Linked DNA regions of Homo sapiens: regions 2 and 3 are each linked to region 1. The links come from fine-mapping of genetic effects on gene expression. A gene starts in region 1. Each other region holds a variant in brackets. All regions are shown on one strand. Distances are from middle to middle. Region 1 holds the start of EMC1 (ER membrane protein complex subunit 1). Region 2 overlaps EMC1 (ER membrane protein complex subunit 1). Region 3 overlaps UBR4 (ubiquitin protein ligase E3 component n-recognin 4).

What was found. PIP is the estimated chance that this variant, and not a neighbour inherited with it, causes the effect.
Region 2: its variant is fine-mapped to the expression of EMC1 in whole blood (TOPMed, PIP above 0.99). The same link has a PIP of 0.9 or more in cerebellum, esophagus muscle, ileum, left ventricle, lymphoblastoid cells and nucleus accumbens.
Region 3: its variant is fine-mapped to the expression of EMC1 in aorta (GTEx, PIP 0.96). The same link has a PIP of 0.9 or more in gastroesophageal junction, subcutaneous fat and transverse colon.

What each region holds. Positions count from the first base shown.
Region 1 is chr1:19,249,274-19,254,273 of GRCh38, forward strand. It overlaps EMC1 (ER membrane protein complex subunit 1), which reads right to left and starts at 2,251. Exons shown (of 23, transcript NM_015047.3): 1 at 2,142-2,251. The coding sequence starts at 2,236. It overlaps MRTO4 (MRT4 homolog, ribosome maturation factor), which reads left to right and starts at 2,532. Exons shown (of 8, transcript NM_016183.4): 1 at 2,532-2,590. The coding sequence starts at 2,563. RefSeq lists enhancers at 2,164-2,669, 4,486-4,987, 4,988-5,000 and a silencer at 4,779-4,924.
Region 2 is chr1:19,229,170-19,234,504 of GRCh38, forward strand. EMC1 (ER membrane protein complex subunit 1) reads right to left here. Exons shown (of 23, transcript NM_015047.3): 14 at 3,767-3,966; 15 at 3,455-3,604; 16 at 2,092-2,253; 17 at 1,675-1,794. All of the region lies in intron 1 of EMC1-AS1 (EMC1 antisense RNA 1), which reads left to right. Among named protein-coding and RNA genes, the nearest start is that of EMC1, 20 kb to the right of the region's middle. The variant G/C (reference allele first, on the strand shown) is at 2,050.
Region 3 is chr1:19,085,832-19,091,166 of GRCh38, forward strand. It overlaps UBR4 (ubiquitin protein ligase E3 component n-recognin 4), which reads right to left. Exons shown (of 106, transcript NM_020765.3): 98 at 2,928-3,146; 99 at 1,985-2,098; 100 at 848-990; 101 at 314-439. Among named protein-coding and RNA genes, the nearest start is that of UBR4, 120 kb to the right of the region's middle. RefSeq lists an enhancer at 1,840-2,209. The variant C/T (reference allele first, on the strand shown) is at 2,979.

The DNA of each region.
Region 1 (5,000 bases):
ACTGACTAACCCCAGAACAACTCCTAGTTCTGCAAGATACATTCATGTTAAGTGCCCTATACCAGTGTACCATTTTTTATCTTTCATATCCTATTTTTACCATACATTTTCTATGTTTAGATACACAAATATTTACCATTGTGTTACAATTGCCTACAGTTTTCAGTAAAGTAACATGCCGTACAGGTTTGTAGCCTAGGAAGAATAGGCTGTACCATATAGCCTAGGTGTGTAGTAGGCTAAACCATCTAGATTTACATAAGTACATGCTACAACGTTTGCACAAGAGGGCATTTCTCAGGATGTATTCCCATCATTAAGTGATGCATACCTGTATGTCTTCATTTATTTTTCAATCTGAAAACTGTAGGCCAGGTGCAGTGGCTCACACCTGTAATCCCAGCACTTTGGGAGGCCGAGGCAGCCAGATTGCTTGAGCCCAGGTGTTCAAGACCAGCCTGGGCAACATGGCAAAACCCCGTCTCTACAAAAAATACAAAGAAACTGGAGAGGTGTGCACCAGTAGTCCCAGCTACTCAGGAGGCTGAGCTGGGAGGGTCACTTGAACCTGCAAGGTCAAAGCTGCAGTGAGCCATGATAGTACTGTACTCCAGCCTGGGCTACAGAATGAGTCCCTGTCTCAAAAAATTTTAAAAAGTCTTGGCTGGGCGCAGTGGCTCCCACCTGTAATTCCAACACTTTGGGAGGCCTAGGCGGGTGGATTACCTGAGATCGGGAGTTTGAGACCAGCCTGACCAACATGGAGAAACCCTGTCTCTACCAAAAATACAAAAATTAGCTGGGTGTGGTGGCGCATGCCTGTAATCCCAGCTACTCGGGAGGCTGAGGCAGGAGAATCGCTTGAACCCCAGAGGCGGAGGTTGTGGTGAGCCATGAGATCGCGCCATTACACTCCAGCCTGGGCAACAAGAGCAAAACTGTCTCAAAAAAAAAAAAAAAAAAAAAAAAAAAAAGTCTTAAACAGAGTCCTTTTCCCCCCTCATCAGCCTAACCTGGCCCTGGGCTCAGAGCAGAGCTGCCCAAGACACTAAGCAGTTAGGAAATGCCATTCATTCATTCATTCATTCATGAAAATAAAATTAAGAAAATTGCATATATCAAGTATTCTGCAAAATTAGATACACATATCACCCGATATATATGTGTAACATACACATATGACATTGTGAACAGTTGTGCACATCATTAAAAATGTAACATGTTTTATTTGTCACACTGTCTGGCATAACAGGTACTCAACATATATGCGAATCAACTTTTCCAAGACAGAAAATACTTCAGAGGAGGAGAAATCTGACCTGGGCCCTGAAGAATAAAGTGTAAATAGCAATAATAACAGATAACGCTTAATGACTGCATTCAATGAGCCAGGCATTGTGCTAAGTAATTTAATGGGATTGTCTCATTCATTCTCACAAGTACTGTAAGAGATAACGGACTGTTAGTAAACCCATTCTACAGACAAAGAAACCAAGGCACAGAGTGGTTAAGTCACTTTCCCCAAGATCACACAAGTCTTAACTAGTAAAATTCAAACAAAAGCAAGCTACTCCAGGGCCTTAAGGAAGACGTGGGTGGGTGAATGAATGAATGAGTGAATGGCATATTCTAGCTGCTTAGTGTTTTGGGCAATCCTGCTGTGAGCCCAGGGCCAGACTAGGTTGATGAGAGGGGAAAAGGACTCAGTTTAGGACTTTTAAGACGAAAGCTCCTGTTCACTTGCCTACAAGACACCAATTCGAGTAGGAATTAAAGTTCACTGACAGCTTGGCGACCTCTGACACCTGGTAGACCAGAAACCTCACAGTCAAAAAAATCGAACCTGACGAGGGAGGACGGGATCAGTGATCTCTGACCGGCACCCCAAGCATTCCTGGATGGCAGGGCCGGCTTACACGCAAGGATCAGCTTAGAATGACCCCTAACACTTGGTTTAAGGCTCTGCTTCCAACGACTTTAAATCCTTAATAATTTTTTAACAAGGGGCCCCACGTTTTCATTTTGTACTGGGTCCTGCAAATTATGCGGCCAATCCTGTTAAGTGACAACCTTTAGCAGGTAGGAGACAGGTACTGGGGAAACAGCCACTTATCTCTCGAATATGTTCCACACGTACGCACCAATCAAACTTGCCCACTTGGTCTTCGTAGACCGCGGCCGCAGGAATCAGCAGCGTAGCCCAAAGCCAGAAACGAGAAGCCCACTCAGCCGCCATGATGCGAGCGCATGCACCACCCACCGCCGTCCCGGCATGCACCGCGCCGCGGGCTCCGCCTCCGCGGGACCACAGAGCTGGGATAGCGCGCGAGGCCCTCGGTCGGACGGGACGCTCGGGATTCAGGGACTGCCTCGGCACACGGGAAGTTGCCCTACAGGCGCGGGAGAAAGCGCAGGCGGCGGCTTGGCAGGGAGAGGCAGGCTGCAGTGCACATTGGGTCAGGCACACGCGAGGGGCAGCCCCCGAGGGCCGTCCCAGAGTCCCCCGCGCCGCCGGGGTCCTAACGGGGTGCACCGTCTTCCGCCGCACGTGGATTCAGCGCGATGCCCAAATCCAAGCGCGACAAGAAAGGTGGGCGAAGGGGGAGTCGGGACCCTGGGGGGAGCTCCGTGGGCTGGCTACCCAGCCTGCGGTGAGGGCTTCGGGGCGGCGGGGGCGCAGATTGGAACGCCAGGACATCCTCGAGGTGTTCCGCTGCCTCGCTGCGAGCTGGAATGGGGGCTTCGGGGCTGTAAAACCGCCAGAGGTGGCTGACGCCCGGTCGGGTCTGGGGAGCGGAGACTCGTTTTGCCTAGTTTCAGGTGCTCTTGCAAGGCCAACTGGGTCGGGAGGCAGCTCCTGAACACCGCCCCCGGCTATGCCTGCTGCCGTTTCGGCCCACTTTTCCCAACTTCGGCCCTTTCTCATCTTCCTGCGCTCCCGCCACCCTGGCTGCCTTTCCCTTCTTTCAGCACAGGTTTGTTCCCGTGTCTGGCGTTGTGTGTCTGCGGTTGTTTCTGCCTGGCATGCTTACATCTTCGTATGGTTTGCGCCTTCTTAGTTGTCAGTTAATAGGATCCCTCTGAGACAGGGTCTCGCTCTGTTGCCCAGGCTGGAGTGCAGTGGCGCGATCGTAACACTGCAGGCCGGATGCGGTGGCTCACGCCTGTAATCCCAGCACTCTGGGAGGCCGAGGCGGGCGAATCATCTGAGGTCGGGAGTTCCCGACCAGCCTGGCCAATATGGTGAAACCCCTTTTCTACTAAAAATACTAAAAATTAGATGGGCATGGTGGCAGGTGCCTGTAATCCCAGCTACTTGGGAGACTGAGGCGGGAGAATCGCTTGAATCCGGGAGGCGGAGGTTGCAATGAGCCGAGATCGCTCCACTGTACTGCAGCCTGGGCACGACAGAGCGAGACTCCGTCTCAAAAATAAATAAATAAAATAAGTCACTGCAGCCTTGACCTCCTTGGCTTAAGCGATCCTCCCACCTCAACCTCCCGAGTAGCTGAGACTACAGGCGCACGCCACCACACCCAGCTAGGTTTTTTTTGTTTATTTTTTATAGAGAAGACTCAGTGTGTTGCCAAGCTGGTCTCGAACACCTGGGCTCCAACCACCCTCCCTGAGTGCTGGGATTACAGGCGTGAGCCACTACACCCGACTTGCGCACCTCTTAAGAGACCGTTTTTGACCACCTTTGCTGTGGTGGCCTCTCTCTTAACCCGGCTCCCTGGAATATTCAAAAATATTTAGGGGTCTGGCACTTTCTAGGCGTTAGAGGATACAGCAGTCACAAGGAAAGCCTATTTCTTATCGAGCCTAACGTTTTAGGAGAAACATATTCCGCAAAATGCTAAAAATCAGATTGAAAATGGGGTGAAGAGATGTTGATATTTTGTATAGTGTGGTCGGGAAAGGTCTCACTGATGAAGTGACAAATGAGCAGAAAATAAAGAAAGGAAGCGAGCAACCTGTGGAATTGAGCAGCTGTGGAATTATCTGGGAGAATGCTGTTCCAAGTAGAGGGAACCTGAAGTGAAAAGGCTCTGAAATGGGAGCAGATATGACGTGTTTGGGACAAGAGGCCAGTGAGGCTGGAGCAGAAGGAGCCAAATAGAGTTTGGGGAGGGAGTTAGGCAGAGAGGGCAGGACTTCCTCGGCCTTGGCAAGGCATTGGCTTTCCTGCCCAGGTGAAGTGAGTAGCAGAGGACCCATGTGATTTACCTTTACTTATGAAGGGTCACTCTGGTTGCCTTGGTGAGAATAGTTGGGGAAGACAGGGCAGAGGGCAGGAATGGAAGCAGTGAGACCAGCATTAATCCAAGACAGGGTGATGCTGGCTTGAGCCAAAGGTATAACAGTGGAAATGATGGGAAGTGGCCCGCTATATTTCGTTTGCCCTCCTCTGCTCCACTTACCATTGACTGATGTCATTGTCTTTGTCTGTGTGGTACCTAGTTAAGAGGGGCTGAGTGCGGGCAGGTTAAAGAAGAGAGGCCTGGGTCCCTTTGTGAAGGCGCCCGGGGCTTTGCAGTTGGAGTTCTGTTAAGTGTTTCTGGAACGATTTGATTCTGTGGAGGGGCCTGGGTCAGGTCTGGCAAATGCCAAACTCTGTGGGTAGAGGGCAAATTGGGCCCCAGCCATTTTTACAGTAGAGGTACATGTTCCTCCCCAGAGAGGTGTTGCTGCGTCTTTGGGTCCAAATTGCAATACTGGGGTGCAGATACATACCAGGAGATTCAGTCCCCAGCCTCATGGTTGCACAGCATAGGCCAGCTAGAGTGGCCTCTGCATCATGGTCAAGAGCAGCAAGGGGCCAGGCATGGTGGCTCACACCTATGATTCCAACACTTTGGGAGACTGAGGTAGGCAGATCTCTTGAGCCCAGGAGTTCGAGACCAACCTGGGCAACATGGCAAAAGCCATCTCTGCAAAAAATACAAAACTCACCTGGGCATGGTGGTGCATTTCTGTGGTCCCAGCCAAAATTAGCAGGC
Region 2 (5,335 bases), 20 kb before region 1:
GGGGAAGACCGCTGGGAATGGGGCTACAAGGGTCTGTTCACATTTTGCTTGTTCACCTCTCTGTATCAATGGACTCTTTTACAATGAGAATATACTCAATGTATTACCTAAATTTTTAAAATAGTGAAAATTATTAATAATAAGCCTTCATTGCCACAACCTTCTTTGAAAACATAAGAACTCACTAAAACATCCCCAGAGAGGAAGGTCACCAAGTGAGGGCAAAGGCAGCACACTCCCTTGTGGTCCCGGACTCGCGCACACAGCTGGCTCACTTCCCACAGACAGCTCTGCCTCCTTTGTCTTCCTTGGTCATTGTTCACTCAGATGATGTCCTCAGGACTCCAGATTCATGACACCCACACTCCAGTTCACTCCCCTGAATCTACAAAACTGTCTCTTTCAAGGTCCTCTTTTTATTAACTCAGAAGGATGATTTTATTTATTTATGTTTTCATTCACAAGGGTAAAGGATGTGTCTTCTGGGCAGACCATTTCCAGTGCTGTTTATGCTAAGGTTAGCTGTTACAAATGTCACAAAAGGGCGCTGCATTTTCAAAACAACAGCACCTCCAACTCAGATGGCATTTACCATGTGCCAGGCAGTTTTATGTGATTTATGTGTTGAATTCTCACAACAACCTTATGAGACAGGTACTTATCACCTTATTTTACAGATAAGAAAACAGAAGACCAGAGCCCAAGGTCACAAAGTTAGTAAGTGACAAACCTAGACTTCCAATCTAGCAAATTGGTTAAACTCTATGCCTCTCAAAAGGCCTTACAGGACAGGATGGGAGAGCTGTTTGTGAGTACACACCACAGAGTACTTCTCCAAACAGTCCTGCTAACAAGGCCATGCCAGCCCCTCGTGAACTTCAGAGCTGGACTTCACAGCCAGCGTGTATTACTGTTTACAAGAGTTGGTCTCAAGTATGTGAGGATTAAAGCAAACTGACCCCCTTTCTAGAAATAAAATTCAAAGCACACATTCCATCACGAGTTGGTCAACATCATCTTCATATAAAAGTACAACTTATTACTCAACCCACATTCCTACCTTCTACCCTCCCAAGAATGGAAAAAAAGTCCCATCTCTCTGCTATAGAAAAATAATGGGGCCAGGCGCGGTGGCTCACGCCTGTAATCCCAGCACTTTGGGAGGCTGAGGCAGGTGGATCACAAGGTCAGGAGTTTGAGACCATCCTGGCCAACACAGCAAAGCCCTGTCTCTACTAAAAATACAAAAAATTAGCCGGGCGCGGTGGCGCACGCCTGTAATCCCAGCTACTTGGGTGTCTGAGGCAGGAGAATCGCTTGAACCAAGGAGGCAGAGGTTGCAGTGAGCCGAGATCGCACCACTGCACTCCAGCCCGGGCGACAGTGCAAGACTCCATCTCAAAAAAAAAAAGAAAAAGAATGTGGAATGAAAGCTCCACAAGGGCAGAGATTTGTTCTACTGTGCACCACTCCATCCACAGCACCTAGAACCGTATCTGCCATGTAGTAGCTGCCCAACAAATATGAACAAATGATTGACTTTGTATCAGACATCAGGATTATGCTAATCTAAGTTTACAGTAGAATGAGTAGCATAATTCACTTCTTAGCCAAATGGCCAGGAAACACCTGCATCTCATCCACAAAGGGTTGTGCCAGGACATGCCTTCCTACCTTTCGAAGCCGATATCCACACAGCCGTCCCTGCTCTGCATCCACCAAATAGAAGAAGATGGAAGGGGCAAGCTCATGTAGCTGTCGCAAGACATTCCGAGTGGCTGGAAAAGCTGTGACCTTGAAAAACCCAGAGAGCCCAAGGAAAGAGTTAGGAAATTTCCCCATCAAAGAGAGCCTTAAGAATAAAACTGCAAATCAGTTGATTTGAACTCAGTTTAGGGTTTACATTCAGTTCTGTTAAGAACCTGAGTTTTCACAAATGCAGACACAGCCATCATTTCTCTTCGGGATGGCCTTAGAGCCCAAACACGTGCTGGGTGCAGAGAGCACTCCATCTCCGGGCCGCTGTGTTTGACCACCTGGCCCCAAACC[G/C]GACTCCGCTAGCATGTTCTCCATCCCCTCTGAAGACAGTACCTTGTATTCATCATCTATCAACAGCAACACCTTGGCGTAGTCTTGATCCATGACTGGGAGAAGCAAGGACTGCAAGATGGGGCGCTTCAGCACTGGGGGAGCTACCTGACTCCACTTCCCAAAAATGGGATTGAAGACATACAGAGAACTCATTCCCGACTCCTAAAATGAGCAAACTGTCAGGCTCCACCAACAAGAAAAGACTGCAAATCCTAGGGATAGACCTGAAGAGCTGGGACTCCAGCTCAACAACTGTGGGGGTTCTCTAGTCTTTGCCCTCTTTGTGGAAAATAAGTTCTTGGCTGTAGGTGAATAGTCCCCTAGGCTAACGTCACAAAGAAAAAAGTCAAACTGTCTCTGCCAGTTCTTTTTCGTTTGAGACAGGGTCTCTCTCTATCACCCAAGCTGGAAGTACAGTGGCATGATCAAGGCTCACTGCAACCTCTGCCTCCCAGGTTCAAGTGATCCTCCCACCTCAACCTCCCAAGTAGCTGGGACTACAGGCACAAACCACCACACGTGGCTAATTCTGTTTTTATTTTTTGTAGAGAGGGGTTTCACCATGTTGCCCAGGCTGGTCTCGAACTCCTGGACTCAAGCAATCCGCCCTCCTTGGCCTCCCAAAGTGCTGAGATTATAAGCGTGAGCCACCGCGCCTGGCTGCTCTGCCAGTTCTAAACAAGAACTAATAAAAAAGTCAAGTAACAATTCAGCAACCTGGCCGGGCGTGGTGGCTCACACCTGTAATCCCAGTACTTTGGGAGGCCGAGGCAGGTGGATCATCTAAGGTCAGGAGTTTGAGACCAGCCTGGCCAACATGGTGAGACCCTGTCTCTACTAAACATACAAAAATCAGCCGGGCATGATGGCGTGTGCCTGTAATCCCAGCTACTCGGGAGGCTGAGGCACAAGAATTGCTTGAACCTGGGAGGTGGAGGCTGCAGTGAGCCGAGATCGCACCAGGCAGCCGTTCCAGGAAAGTGTCTACCAAGCCCGCCTTCTATGCTAGAATGAATACACAAAAATCCATTCTAATTCTGGGAAGACACAAAAATATCTTTGTGTCCTGCTCTTCCTCAAAGAGAGAAGAGAAAATAGCCACTCAGCAACCAACAGCCAATGTTTAGAAAAGAGGAGAGCTGGCTCCCTACATAGCTGGTGAAGTCACACCCACTTTCTAAACAATTCCACATCAGTGCTGGATGGTTCCTCCACCCATGCATGAAACTAGAAGAAACAGAGTTCTAACCCCTGAATGTTCCTCATTAACTCACACAATTCCAAGGGCCTAGGAGCAATTTAAGTTACAAAATAGCAAAAAAGCCACACTGAGTCTGGCTCAAGTCAGAGCTGGATGCCTCACCTTGTCCTTCACCAGCAGGGTGCACTGTGGGGGATGGGGGAAATGAGCAGTAGTTCTCTGGACCATCAGTTTAAAGGAGGAGTCTGGCTTGACATTGGGTAGATACTGTTTCCACAGGATGGTGCCAGAGCTGCTCTCAATGCCAAAAAGCTGCAAGATAAACAAATACTTGGCTCACTACTAGAAAGAGAAACCAAAGAACTGAGTCTGTCCTTGAAAACTAGAACCAGTGTTATCCCTCACTGAAGGCTTTTTGTTCCTCACCCTCAGAATTTGAAAAGGTTCAGTAACTGGAGCTTAAACCCCACTCACCTTGCCTGAGGCTGTTACCATCACCATCATCTTCTGGAGGTTGAATTCATCTCTGGCCAGGGTGTCAATGTTGATCTCATTCTTAATCTGACTCCGGGGCTTCCGAGCATCATAAAACATTTTCCAGAGGTGGGAAGTCCATGCTTGCAGCAGGATAAGCTGAGACGAGAGGCGTTTCAGGAACATCCCCAGCAAGCCATCTGGTGTAAAGGAAAAGTAACATACTCTACATCAGACTAGGGGTCCATAAGGAGGTACATGATTTTCCTAATGAGGGATCTCTGCCTCTCCTCTGGAGCAATAAAGTCCACACTCTAGGCCACAAGCCCAAAGGGCAGTCCTGTATCTGATGCCCAAAGTCTCACACTCAGGTGAGGCTCATGCAGGAGCTTCCAAAAACTGCTTAACTGGCTCTTAACAACTAAACCCAGCTGGAATCTTGGAATAGGAGACTAAGAGGTCAGGGATCAGGCATGCAGGAGACAGCCATGCTGTGAATGTCTCCACCACAGCCCCACATCCAAGATGCTAAAAGAAGGTTTCTGGGTGCCATGACAAAGCCAGAAGAGGTATGAGTGTGGGGGTGGAGGGTGCAGGTCAGTGAATATGTATCATGAGCAGGTACTTCCATCTCCCATTGCTTCATTCCTACTTTGTCAGCTGTTTAACCTGCACCCAACAGACGTACTTGCAACGAGTTCCCAGGACCATCATTCACTCTTTCCCTGATTCCGTCAATGAAGCCACTGCCCTCCAAATCTCCTCCATTGGAGACCACAGATTTGTAAACAGATGCAAGGAAGCAAGGTAAAGAGCATGGTCTCTGGAATCTAGCAGGCCCAGATTAAGATCCCAGCTTCACCACTCACTGCGGGGTAACACTGAGAAATGTACTTCACCTTTTTGCTTCTGGTTCCTCATCTGTAAAGTGGCATGTAACCCACTGGACTGTTCCAAAATTACATCATACGATGTACATAAAGGATTTAGCGTGGTGGCTGGTACATGGTAATAACTCACTAAAAAAGGAGCAGAACCTCTGCTTATCTTATTTTCCACCCACCTCTGCTCAAGGAAGAGAAGTGAGAAGCAACAGGACAACTCACAAGCATGGCAGTCAACACACACACACACACACCCCAAGGATGTACCTCATTGGTCCAAGTTAGGAAGAAAAACAATTAACCAAAAGCTAGCCATGTGAGCAGGCAACGAGCAACAAGGCAGCAAGAAGCAGGTTTTACCTTGAATTGCTGGATCCAGGCAGCAGAAATAAACAGTAAAGTCAAATTAATCCTCAGCTTAAGAAAATGTGCATTGCCTAGCAGAGTGCCTGGTCCAGAGCAGGCCCTCAACAGCTATCCGTTGGAGGGCTGGATGAATGGAGAGAAGAGAGAGGGTGGGGGGCAGGACTGAATCAGAGCAGAGTGAATCAAGTTCATCCTGGCAGTTGGGACCATGGCCAGCTTTAGAGGGCACTGGGCTGTTTCCACAATACCCAGATCAACCCAATGGTGTCTCCAGACAGATATGGCTGCTGCTTTAGGGACAATGAGTATAAGGTGCCTG
Region 3 (5,335 bases), 160 kb before region 1:
GTTGGCCCCACATCTTCTGTCATAAGATCAGCAAAGGAATAGTGAAGACCCAGAAATTTCATCTGGTACCCTGGAAGCTAAGGGTGCTGGTTCCTCCCACCCTGTGGTGGGCCATGTCAGGTCACCCCTTGAGTAAGCCTCCATCCCCCACCCTGTATGCTCTGGACAGCTCCCCAGTCAGCAAGCAGACAGACATGGATTCCCAAGGAAGGTAACAGGAAATGGTGTCACCAGGGGATTGGGCTGATAGCGGGTCTTGTCCCATCCCCTGCAAATCCCCTCCATTCCACCATGAAAAATACTCAACACTCACCTTGCCAAGCAAGTGGCAAAAGCTGATTCAGGGACATGAGGTCCCCAGACCGGAAGGAGCCCGTTGCACTTGGTGTTGGCATTCTGCAGGGCGGCACTCTCCCACTCTTCCCGGCCTCGAGCCAACCTGGATAGGGAGGAGAGCAGGGACAAGCGACTGCTGGCATTAACGTGGCAACCAGGCACCTGGGCGGGGGGGCGGGGGTGGGGGTGGGGGCATGCCAACACTAAGAAGTCAGTCGGCCCAGGCTCCTGACCCTGCGAAGAGAATTTGCTATTTGTAGCCTCAATGTGGTACACACTGGCTTTGCTGACTCAGGTAGGCAGGGCTGTTCTCACTAGCCTTGGGCCCAGGCCAAAGCATATTTTCCTATCATTCAAATAACTGCTTGGGGACCTATATGGTGTCAGGCAGAACACCCTACTCTCCAGAGACTAAGGAGCAGATTTAAAACCACGAGGATGGCAGTCCCACCCGCTCCAGGCCCACAGGCAGGCCTACTGAAGGAGCCATTCCGCAAGAGCCAGGGCCTACCTGACGGCAGCCAGATGGCAGTCGTAGTGCACAATGTTGAAGTGGGACACGGTGCTGTAGCCCTGCTGTTTCCGGGGCTTATTCTCCATCTCCTCCAAGGCTACCCGCTTCGTGAAGGTATAAATGCCCAGGACCTTTGTGGGCTGCAAAGACGACAACATAAGGAGAGGGGAGGAGAAACTCCAAGTCAGGCTCAGGAGAAGCAGAATAGAGGGGAACTGCCGCCCTTCTTGGGCAATGCCTTGGGTTTCAGGTTGCTCTCACTAGGGAAGTTCAGAAGAGCAGGTAAGGCCAGCCCCTCAGTCTGTTGGTGAAGCACTTGGCTGGCCGCAGCCCTAGTGAAACAAGGATTATGGGAGCAACCAGCAAGAAGGGGATGCGGTGCAGATGCAGAGGCATACACATAAGCAAGCCTCGGCCATCTTTCTTTACTTTGTGCTTCATCTGTCTGAAAATGCAGAAGTGACTTCTTGATATTCCCTTGCTTTTCAAAACCTGCTGGGCAGCTCTGAAGAGCCTGCATTACGCAGGACTAACGAGCCCTGTGGCCCAGGCACCTGCCCTTTCACAGCCTGTATTCTAAGCAGTAAGTTCCAGCTGGAAAGAAGAGGCCACCTTTGAGCCTTCAGGAGAGCCAGCAGGTCACTGGCTGCTCTGCTCCTTTCAGGTGGAATCTAGTTTGGATAAGCCTAGAAAGTTCTGATTTTCTCCCCAGTTACCCTGAATGGAGGCAGCATGGTATGTTTTTAAAAGCCCAGGTCTGGAGTCTGAGAAGCCTAGGCTGGAATTCTGGCTCTGCCATGTGACCTTTGTTTGCTTAACCACAAGTTGAGACTTTTTACAGGTTTAAATAAAATTATCCAGTTTACACAAAGCTCTGAGCATGAGGCCTCACATATAGGAAGAATCCAATGAGCAGCATTTGTCATGATGATGATAAAGATAACAAAGTCTAAAGTTCGGATGAGCTCGCCTTCCTGCCTCTAAAGAGGACAGCTGGTCCTTTTGTTAATCTCCTAAGATGCAGGCCTTGATCTTGCCTAGCTAAGAACAAAATGGCCTGGAGGAGGGGGATGCTACCTAGAACAAGGGGTCAGGCTGGGCCCTCAGGACCGACCGTAGGCCCAGCAGCTGTACCTGGAACTTGTATCCCTCCCTGCAGATGCAGCACGTGAGGCCAGGCTCCTCGATCAGCTCTTCCATCTGCTTCAGGAGTGCTGTCTTGGTCACGACCTGGCCCTTTTCATTTGTCTGTAGGGGAACCCCGGTGGCATGTCAAGGGGATTTCCACACACCCTCTCCCACCCTAGCTTGGAGATGCTCAGGAACAGGGCTAACCTTCTACCTCCACTAAAAGGACAGGTGCATGAGAGGAAAGCCCTTGAGCTGTCTTCTAATAAGGATAAAGACCCAGGCCCTTCTGCTATTCTCTCTTCCTACAGGAACCACTGAAGCAAAGGAAGTCATCCAGCTGGAGCCCTGGCAAGGTGCCACCTGCCATCAGAAAAGCCCCCTTTCTTCATGCCAGCATCTTCGTGCCAGCAATGCCAAGTCTCAGCTTCCAAGGGTTGTTGCACTATGATTCATTCACTGTTCCCAGGTGAGCTTTTCAACTGCTGACACTCAAGTCTGTGCTTTGGAAAAGGAGCTTGTAGGACTCTGCTTCCTCCAAGGTGGGACAGTTAGAAGAGCACAGAACCCTTTGTGTCAACCACTTATTAGTTATGTGCCTTGGCCTATTTACTTCACCTCTCAGTTTCAGTTACTTCATCTGGAAAATGGGTATAACAATATCAACCTCCTAGAACTACTTGAGGGCTTAAATAAGTCCTCAATAAACTTAATGGCTATTATCACTGGTTTACTGTTTTGGTAAACTTCGTAAGTCACTTACTCCGAGTCTCATCTGTATGATAGAACGATAGTAGTTCCACCTCTGAGAGGGCCGAACACACCTAGTTCCTTCCTCCTACTCTGTCCAGCCTTCTCTTTCCCCATGGCCAACCCCAGGGCTGTCCCATGGCCACCTCCTCATCAACAGTGTGGGCAGAAATATGGGGACTCTAGGTGGTAGCTTTACCGTCATGCCCAGGGTGCCCAGGGCCTTCTGCCTCATTGCCATGGCCATGCG[C/T]TTCTTCTCTGCCCGGGTCTCCCTGCGGGCTGCGTCAATCTTCTTGTTTACGTCAGGGTGTTCCCGCAGGGCTTCCAGCAGGTTCTCTGCCAAGGTCCCAATGCCCTCATCACTGGACACCTGCTCCAGCTTATGCAGGTTCGGGATGGAATCAGTTCCAATCAGAACCTGCCAGTAAGAGACCAGAGAGACACATGCCTCCAATTATGTAGACAAACCTTCTTCCCGGGAGCTTAAAGGTTTAGAAACTCAACCAGCATGCACCATCTCATGTCACCTGCTCAGCTGCAATCAGGTCCTTTGATTCCACACTTTGACAGACACAGACAAATGGAAGAGGGTTTGGCTCTGCCACTGCCTCTGACCAATTCCTATGCTCTAAGCTCAGTATTTCCATCTATAAAATGGGGATAGTGCAAGGGCTGCTGTGATGACTAAAAACTAGATAACATATGCAAAGCATCCATCACAGAGGATGTGGAAAGGGGCCAGGAGAAGATCCCCGTATTCTGGTAAGACAAGCAGCAACACCTGATGTGTACTGAGTGGTGAACCAGCAGCCAGAGCAGGCACTGGACGTTCTCCTAAGGACCTGCCCTGAGTTCTCCACGGGAGCCCCTGGGTCCACCAAACCTAGGAGCACAGTTTTCTCAGGCTAGGGATACTAGAGGTGCAATGACTACAAGCAGGTATGGACATGAAAAACTTTAACAACAAAAAAGATATTAACAAGAAACCTCTGTGCCTGAAAAAGCTGGAAGTCACTACGTATAGCGCTATGTGATAAACGGGGGTGGAGAACATCAGAAGGCTAAAGACAGGTGTAGTTGGAAAAAGCACTCCAGGTGAGCTCACTGAGAAATATTACCACATCCCTGAAATCCTCACCAACCTGTCACAAGTGACTTGACAGCAATGATTACATATGAGACAACAGGCTGAAAATAACACAGCCAGCAGATCACTCAGTAGCTCATAAATCTGTTCTCACAGCAAGTCCACTTCCAATCTGTGTCTCAGCGAAATTACCTATTCCCTCATGTCTCATGCTCCTAAATGCTGAGCCCATATTTCAACTCCTACTGAGCTTTTCCACAGGTACCCCAAACTCAACATTCTGGCTGTTTACTGTGTGTGCATGCTTGCACATGTGTGTTTTCGGTGCTGGGAAAACAAAGACCTTGCTCTCATTTAACTTACATTCTAGTTATTAATAGGACAGACCATACATTCATAGCATAGTCTAATGAACTCTCCTCCACCTTACTCGCAAACCTCTGATCTTCTCCATCTCAGTGGCACCACCATTCACCTCATCACTCATTCCAGAAACTGAGCAGGTTCTTGATTCATTCAGCTTCTTAGCTTCTCACGTTCGGTCACTCTCCAAATCCCATTTATTCTTCCTCCCAGCTCAATCTCTGTTGAATCTATCCATGAACTAGTTTAAGCTGCCATTTCTCTCACTTCAATTACGATAAAAGCCTGTCAACTGTTCTTCCTACCTCCAATCTCACCTCCCTTCAATTCACTCTCTGTAATATGGCCAGGGCACTGCCCTCAGGAGAAAACCCACACTCCTCTTCTGGGAGAAAGAACATGCCTTTCCCCTGCTTGGATCTCCATCGGCAGCTCTTGCCATGCCTCGCCTCCGACTGCAGCTGCTTTCAATTCTTGGAAGGCTTTAAGCTCTCTTTGGCCTCTGAACCTTTGCAGGTGCCATGCCCTCTACTTAACAATCCTATTTCCTGAGGCCCCTTCCACACTGCATCTATCTCGCTGTTTAGTTACTACTCTGTATTTGGCTCTATCTTCCACCAGACAGTAAGCTCCCAACAGGCACAGGCGACAGCTGTCTCCTCAGTCTAACACAGGACCAGCTACACAACAAGATGTGTTGCAAGAAAAATGAATGGCCATAGCATAAATGCCAAGTATCTAACTAGATAAAGCCTTATTCTAAAGAAAGTAATTCAATTTGGTAACTAAGAATAAATCTGGATGGCCAGACACAATGGCTCACGTCTGTAATCCCAGCACTTTGGGAGGCTGAGGGGAGCGGATCACCTGAGGTCAGGAGTTGGAGACCAGCCTGGCCAACATGGTGAAACCCCGAGTCTACTAAAAATACAAAAAATTGGCCAGGTGTGGTGGCAGGTGCCTTTAGTTCCAGCTACTCGGGAGGCTGAGACAGGAGAATCGCTTGAACCCGGGAGGCAGAGGTTGCAGTGAGCCGAGACCATGCCACTGCACTCCAGCCTGGGTGACAAGAGCAAAACTTCATCTCAAAAAAAAAAAAAAGAATAAGCCTGGAAATCAGCTGACTTTGAGTTCCAAACTCATTGTGTTGCCTTTGG